Regions from separate parts of the Homo sapiens genome. Here region 1 is linked to region 2. The links come from fine-mapping of genetic effects on gene expression. A gene starts in region 2. The other region holds a variant in brackets. All regions are shown on one strand. Distances are between the middles of the regions.

Region 1 (2,905 bases), 140 kb after region 2:
CAGGAAGCCGAGAACTGGACATGAATGGAAGTGTTCACAGGAGGCTGTGCCACACTTTGTAAATCCTAAAATTGAGTTGTAGTTTCCTAACTTATTTTCCTCTTATAACTGAAAGTGAGTGGAGGGCTAAGGGATTGTCATCTGGCTGAGAAGGGAGAGCTGTGATAGCATGGCTGGGGGAGGTGATGGAAGACGGATGGAGCCCTTGCCTTTGTCCCCCACAGATAAATTTGTTGTAAAACCTAACAAGAGCACAAAGCAGGGGATAGACTCAGGAAGAGAGATTAATACACTCTCTGAAACGCTTTGTACTGATTTACAGGCTTTAGGAAATATTTTCATGAGTGTGTGTGACACCTCTCTCTCTGTCTAGCACATAGTATTCATTTATAAACCTACCTCCCTGCTGCCCTACACATTTAATAAATGTGCTTTAAACTCATTTACTCACCCCCAGCAACCTTATGAGTAGTTACTATTTTTAGCCCCGTTTTACAGAGAAGCAACTAAAGCACAGAGAGATTGAGAAACGTGTTGAAGGGTGCACAGCACATGTGGAGGAACTGTGATCTGCACTCAGACCTTCTAGTCCCTGGGGTATCTCACTCTCCCCCCTTGTATCTCCTCTATCTCTCAATTTTTTATTATAGAATGCAGATCACGAGGTCAGGAGATTGAGACCAGCCTGGCCAACATGATGAAACCCCGTCTCTACTAAAAAAATAACAAAAATTAGCTGGGCGTGGTGGTGGGCGCTTGTAATCCTAGCTACTCTGGAGGCTGAGGCAGGAGAATCATTTGAACCCGGGAGGCAAAGGTTGCAGTGAGCCGAGATTGCACCATTTTGCCCCAGCCTGGGCGACAGTGCGAGACTACGTACCCTCCCCACCCCACCAAAAAAAAAAAAAAAAAAAAAAAGAAACGAATTTTCTAAACATATATAAGGTAAAGAGAATAATATAATGGACTTAATGTATGCATCACTTGGCTTCAGCAATTCTCCTTTTATAAAATGCATTCCAAACCCTTACCCTCTTCTGCCTCTTTCAGCAAATTTGTTTGAGGTGGTGGATGTTTGCTGAGTGGACGGATGAAAAAAAATAGTTGAAGAGTAATTGCCATTTGATACAGAACAGAAGAGCTTAGCTTTGGTTTAAGCTGTTCATTTCCCTCCCACAGTCTGAAGTTCAGCTGCAGGAAAAAAAAATAAAAAAGAAAGAAAAGTAATTTAAGTAATTTAAATTCTGCCTGCTGACTTAGTTTTGTCCTCATCTTATCTGACCTTATTTAATCAGAGAAAAAAAAAAGAAGAAAAGAAAAGAAAAAAAAAGACTGGGAAAGCGTTTTCTAGGAATTTCATCATGACCCTTTAAACACATCTTCCATTTACACTTATATAATTGTTTCATACGGGATAGTGTTAATAATACCAAATTTCATTCCTAAAGCAAGCTGACAAAAGCATTTAAAGACTTGCTCATTCCAAATGTGTTAGAGCAGCTGAGAATCACGATCTGGTGCCAGTTCATTTGCTTTCAATACTTCCTGCTTTTGGGTGCTGCATATTTTCTTTACAATAGCCCATAGTTAGGGCCATATCCATACACCCCAACTCCAGATTCCTGTCACGCGCCTTCC[A/G]GTGCAAGAAATGATCATGCTTTAGGGTGCACGGGGCACAGTCTAGCATTTTCCTTGCTTTCCACATCAGGGTGATGATGCTCAGAGATGTAGAAGAGCTCCCAAAGGGGTGGCACTGACCAGTGGCCACGTGGCTCCCTGGGCCTGTTCATCCATCCCGGTTTGTTCTGAGATAACCTCATGTCCAGGAAACAGCCTTGGCTAACGTGCCTAGGAGCAGTTTTTGAAAGAATCTGAGCTCACGGAAATGAAGTAAAAAATCTCTGGCACTCATTCAGGTTTTTTATTTAAGATTTATTAAAGGATAATTTACAGGCGATAACATTCACCCTTTTTGGGTGTACAGTTTGATGAGTGTTGGCAATGGATATGTAGCTGTGGATTTACCACCACAGTTAAGATGCAGAATAATCCCATTTTGTGGTCAGTCTCCAACTCATCCTTAGCAATCACTGATCTGTTCTCTAATTCTTCCTGTCTTTTTTATTTAGTGGTGGGGACAGGGTCTCACTCTGCCTCCCAGGCTGGAGTGCAGTGGCACGATCACAGTTCACTGCAGCGTCGACCTCCCAGGCTAAAGCGATCCTCCCGCCTCAGCCTCCCGAGTAACTAGGACCACAGATGGGTGCCACCATGCCCAGCTAATCTTTTAATTTTTGTAGAGATGGGGTCTCCCTATGTTGGCCAGGCTGATCTCAAACTCTTGGGCTCAAGCAGTCCTCCTGCCTCGGCCTCCCAAAGTGTTGGGATTACAGGCATGAGCCACTGTGGCCAGTTGTCCCCTATTTCTATGGTTTTGCTTCTCTAGACTGTCATACATTGGAAATGGAATCATGCAGTATGTAACCTTTGGGGCCTGGCTTCTTTCACTTGAATGATTTTGATACATGCTATTCCATGTATTGGGAGTTTCTTTCTTTTTTACTGTTAAGTAATTTCCGAAGTATGGATGGACATTTGGGTTGTTTCCAGTTTGGGGGAATCATGAATAAATCTTCTATTAAACATTCATATACAGTCATGTGAACATATGTTTTCATTTACCTTGGGTAGATACGTAGGAATGGGATTCCCAGGTATCATGTGGTGAGCGTATGTTTCACTTTGTAAAAAAACGCCAGCCTGTTTTCCAAAGTGGCTCTACTATTTTGCATTCTCACAGCTATGTATCAGGCAGAGTTCAGGTTGCTCCACATCCTTGGTGACACTTGGTATTGTCAGGTATTTTTTTAAGCCATTCTAGTAGGTGTGTAGATGTCATGCAGGC
Region 2 (2,905 bases):
CACCCTAGCCCAATGCCTCAGCCTCCCTGGCTTCAGTCCTGCGGCTGAGTGAATGTTCAAAAATTATTTTTGCAGAAGCTTCCATTGATTGTGCTAGCTCCATCTGTAGTGTGGTTATAATAACACCCAACTCAACTGGATACTCCATGAGATGCTCAGTAACCCAAGTTTCTTCCCACACAGCCTCTCTCTTGCCTAACATGTGTGGCTAAAAATCATCCCTTGGGCCTTTTTAACTGTTTTGTGTCCACTTTCAGGTAGATTTTACAAAGCATGCGCCCTGAGGACCCGATTGCACCCAGGCAGAGAATTCCAAGGGAATGAAATAAAAAGACTATTTTTTTGCATATACATTTCTATGTTAAAAATCAAAACTTAAAATAATACACAGGCAAAAACAAAACAAGAAACCAAGCCCCAGAAAAAACCAAAACAACCGCAAAAACAAAAACAAAAACTTTAATGAGATCAAAATGATGAGGGGAAAACGATCAGCTCCATTTAGCTTTGCTGCCCGATTTTTATTAGTTGGCGGCCTGATTTCTATTTTAGACCCAAGGAATTAAATGGATCAACCGGGGTGGGGGGGCGTTGAATTCCAGTATTTCGAGTTCCTGGGTTTTGGGAAGAGGAAGAGGTAGTGGAAAACCAGGAGCCAAATGAATATGCTTCTTATAATAAAATTTGAACAGAGCAGCGGGTGGGCCTAGAAGCAGTGACTGGGGAGGTTAGAATTCTTGCACGCAGAGAACCCCCCCAAGCCCGCTCACGCCCGGCCTGGCTCCGAAGGTCTCAGAATCCGAGCCTCCAGGCCAGATTTTCCCTCTAGCCATTCCTGGCCACGCAGCGCGGAGCCGCGAGCACACAGAAAAGGATGTCTTCATCGCCAACCGGGATGGAACGAACCCGCCCGCTCAGGGAGTACTGAGAACTAAAGGGTCCCTCCAGCGCCGGCCGCAGCCAGCATGCCTTGACTGCCTCCATCCCGCGCGGTCCCCACTCTCCAGAAGCCCCCGCCCTGCCCGGGTGCGCGCGCGCACGAGTCGGCGAACCGGGGAGCTGTGCGCTCGGCAGCCTGCGGGCGGCGGCGGCGGCCGCCGACAGCCTCTCGGGGACAGGGTGGCGAAGAGCGGCGGAGGAGGAGCTGGCGCCGCCGCCGCTCCCCTCGGGCCGCGCCCCGCCCTCCGCCGCCACCTGCGCGTCCCCTCCGGGCTCCTCAGCTCCGGGGCTGTGTGGCTCTCGGTGCCGCAGCGGCGGTGTCACCGCGTCCGCCAATTGGGAGACTCGGCGTTTTGGCTCCCGGGGGCGCGGGACGAGCCGCGCGGCCGGATCTGGCGAGCGGAGGGTGATTCGGCACGCGTACCTCCCCGCCGCGCTGCCCGCGACGTTTTGGGAGGGGGTAGAGAACTGCTGTGACTTTTGAGGTCCGACTCCTTCCGGCCAGCCTCGCGACGCGCCAGCTCCGAGACAGGCCGGTGTGCCCTGAAGGCCCCGAAGGCTCTCGGCGCGGTTTGGGGGCTTGGAACGTGTCCGGGAGCCGGCGGCGCTGTGAGCGCTGGTGAGTTTGCCGGCGGGGTGGGGTGGACTCCGCGCGGGGGGCGGAGAGGACGTAGCGCTCGGCCCGGCGCCCGCCCCCTAGTGCTGCCCCCACTTTGAGAGTAATTGAGACTTGAGCGTGACTGCGGAGCCTGGAGGATGCGGGCTCCCCGAGCGGGCTTCCCCTCTGCCCGGCGCGATGGAGCGGGTCGGTGAGCGGAACAAAGGCGCCTGCCCGGGGGAGCGGGTCTTCCGCTGAAGAGCGCGGGTGGCGCGCCGCGACGGCCGCCTGCGGGCCAAGGTGGGAGGCTGTGCGGCCCCAGGCGCGGCGCGCTCCGCCGTGGGCGGGCGGCGATCCCTGAGTCCGGCACCTGTGCGCCGCTCCCTCTGTGCCTCCCGGGCAGCCCCGCCTGCCGGCCTCGGAGTCCGCGGCGCCGGCGGCTAGAGGTCCAGAGGCGAACCACTTGCTGGTGCAGAAGAGAAACCCTCAAATCCCTGGCCTTTCGCGGAGACGCCTGGACGGGGCCGTGCGCCGTGGACTGAGCAGGCGTCTCGGGGAGCACTTCTGCAGAGCGAGGACTTCCATGTGAGCGATTCCGTTCTCCCCACCACCAATCCGACCTCCCAGCCGTCTCCGCCGCCCGAGCATCCTTGAGGTGGGACGAGCAGGGGCTTGGATCCCTGCCGGCCGTCTGGTGTGTGAGGCTTGCACGGCCCCTGGCTGCCCCGCGCCTCGCCGGAGCCCGAGGGGGCGCAGGTCCGGGGCGAGGGCCGGCCGGGCTGTTTGATGGCTTCACTGAGAAGAGTCAAAGTGCTGTTGGTGTTGAACTTGATCGCGGTAGCCGGCTTCGTGCTCTTCCTGGCCAAGTGCCGGCCCATCGCGGTGCGCAGCGGAGACGCCTTCCACGAGATCCGGCCGCGCGCCGAGGTGGCCAACCTCAGCGCGCACAGCGCCAGCCCCATCCAGGATGCGGTCCTGAAGCGCCTGTCGCTGCTGGAGGACATCGTGTACCGGCAGCTGAATGGTAAGGACGCACGCCGGCGCCTCCGGGGCTCGACGCGGGCGGGCCGGGCACAGGGTGAGCCCCAGGGTCCTTGCGCGCTGCGCCCTGTGCCTGGGAGCCGGCACACCCTGGCTCCCGCGCGCTCCTTCTTACCCTTCCTGCCCCGTTTCGGGCAGATGGCCGGGGCTGCTGGAAAGAACAACTTGCCTGATTCTTTTCTGTGCCCCACCTGCAAATTTGGTTTTATCCTGGAAACATGTCAGTACAGTTGGCTCCCGGTCCCCGCGTGCGGACTGGAAATCATTCCCTGGCGACTCCAGCCCGAGCGCAGAAACTAGTGGAGGGGCCACATGGGACTGGAGGCG

Which allele goes with the higher level. Alleles are on the strand shown, and positions count from the first base shown. SD is a standard deviation of normalised expression in the study named.
In carriers of allele A in region 1, the expression in sigmoid colon of the gene that starts at base 1,665 in region 2 tends to be higher than with G alone (small effect, 0.23 SD a copy in GTEx).

The links. PIP is the estimated chance that this variant, and not a neighbour inherited with it, causes the effect. A credible set is the group of variants that fine-mapping cannot tell apart.
Region 1: its variant is the best candidate, but not a certain one, in a credible set for the expression of GALNT17 in sigmoid colon (GTEx, PIP 0.62).

Annotation. Positions count from the first base shown.
Region 1 is chr7:71,269,644-71,272,548 of GRCh38, forward strand. All of the region lies in intron 1 of GALNT17 (polypeptide N-acetylgalactosaminyltransferase 17), which reads left to right. Among named protein-coding and RNA genes, the nearest start is that of MIR3914-2, 37 kb to the right of the region's middle. The variant A/G (reference allele first, on the strand shown) is at 1,639.
Region 2 is chr7:71,130,480-71,133,384 of GRCh38, forward strand. It overlaps GALNT17 (polypeptide N-acetylgalactosaminyltransferase 17), which reads left to right and starts at 1,665. Exons shown (of 11, transcript NM_022479.3): 1 at 1,665-2,561. The coding sequence starts at 2,324.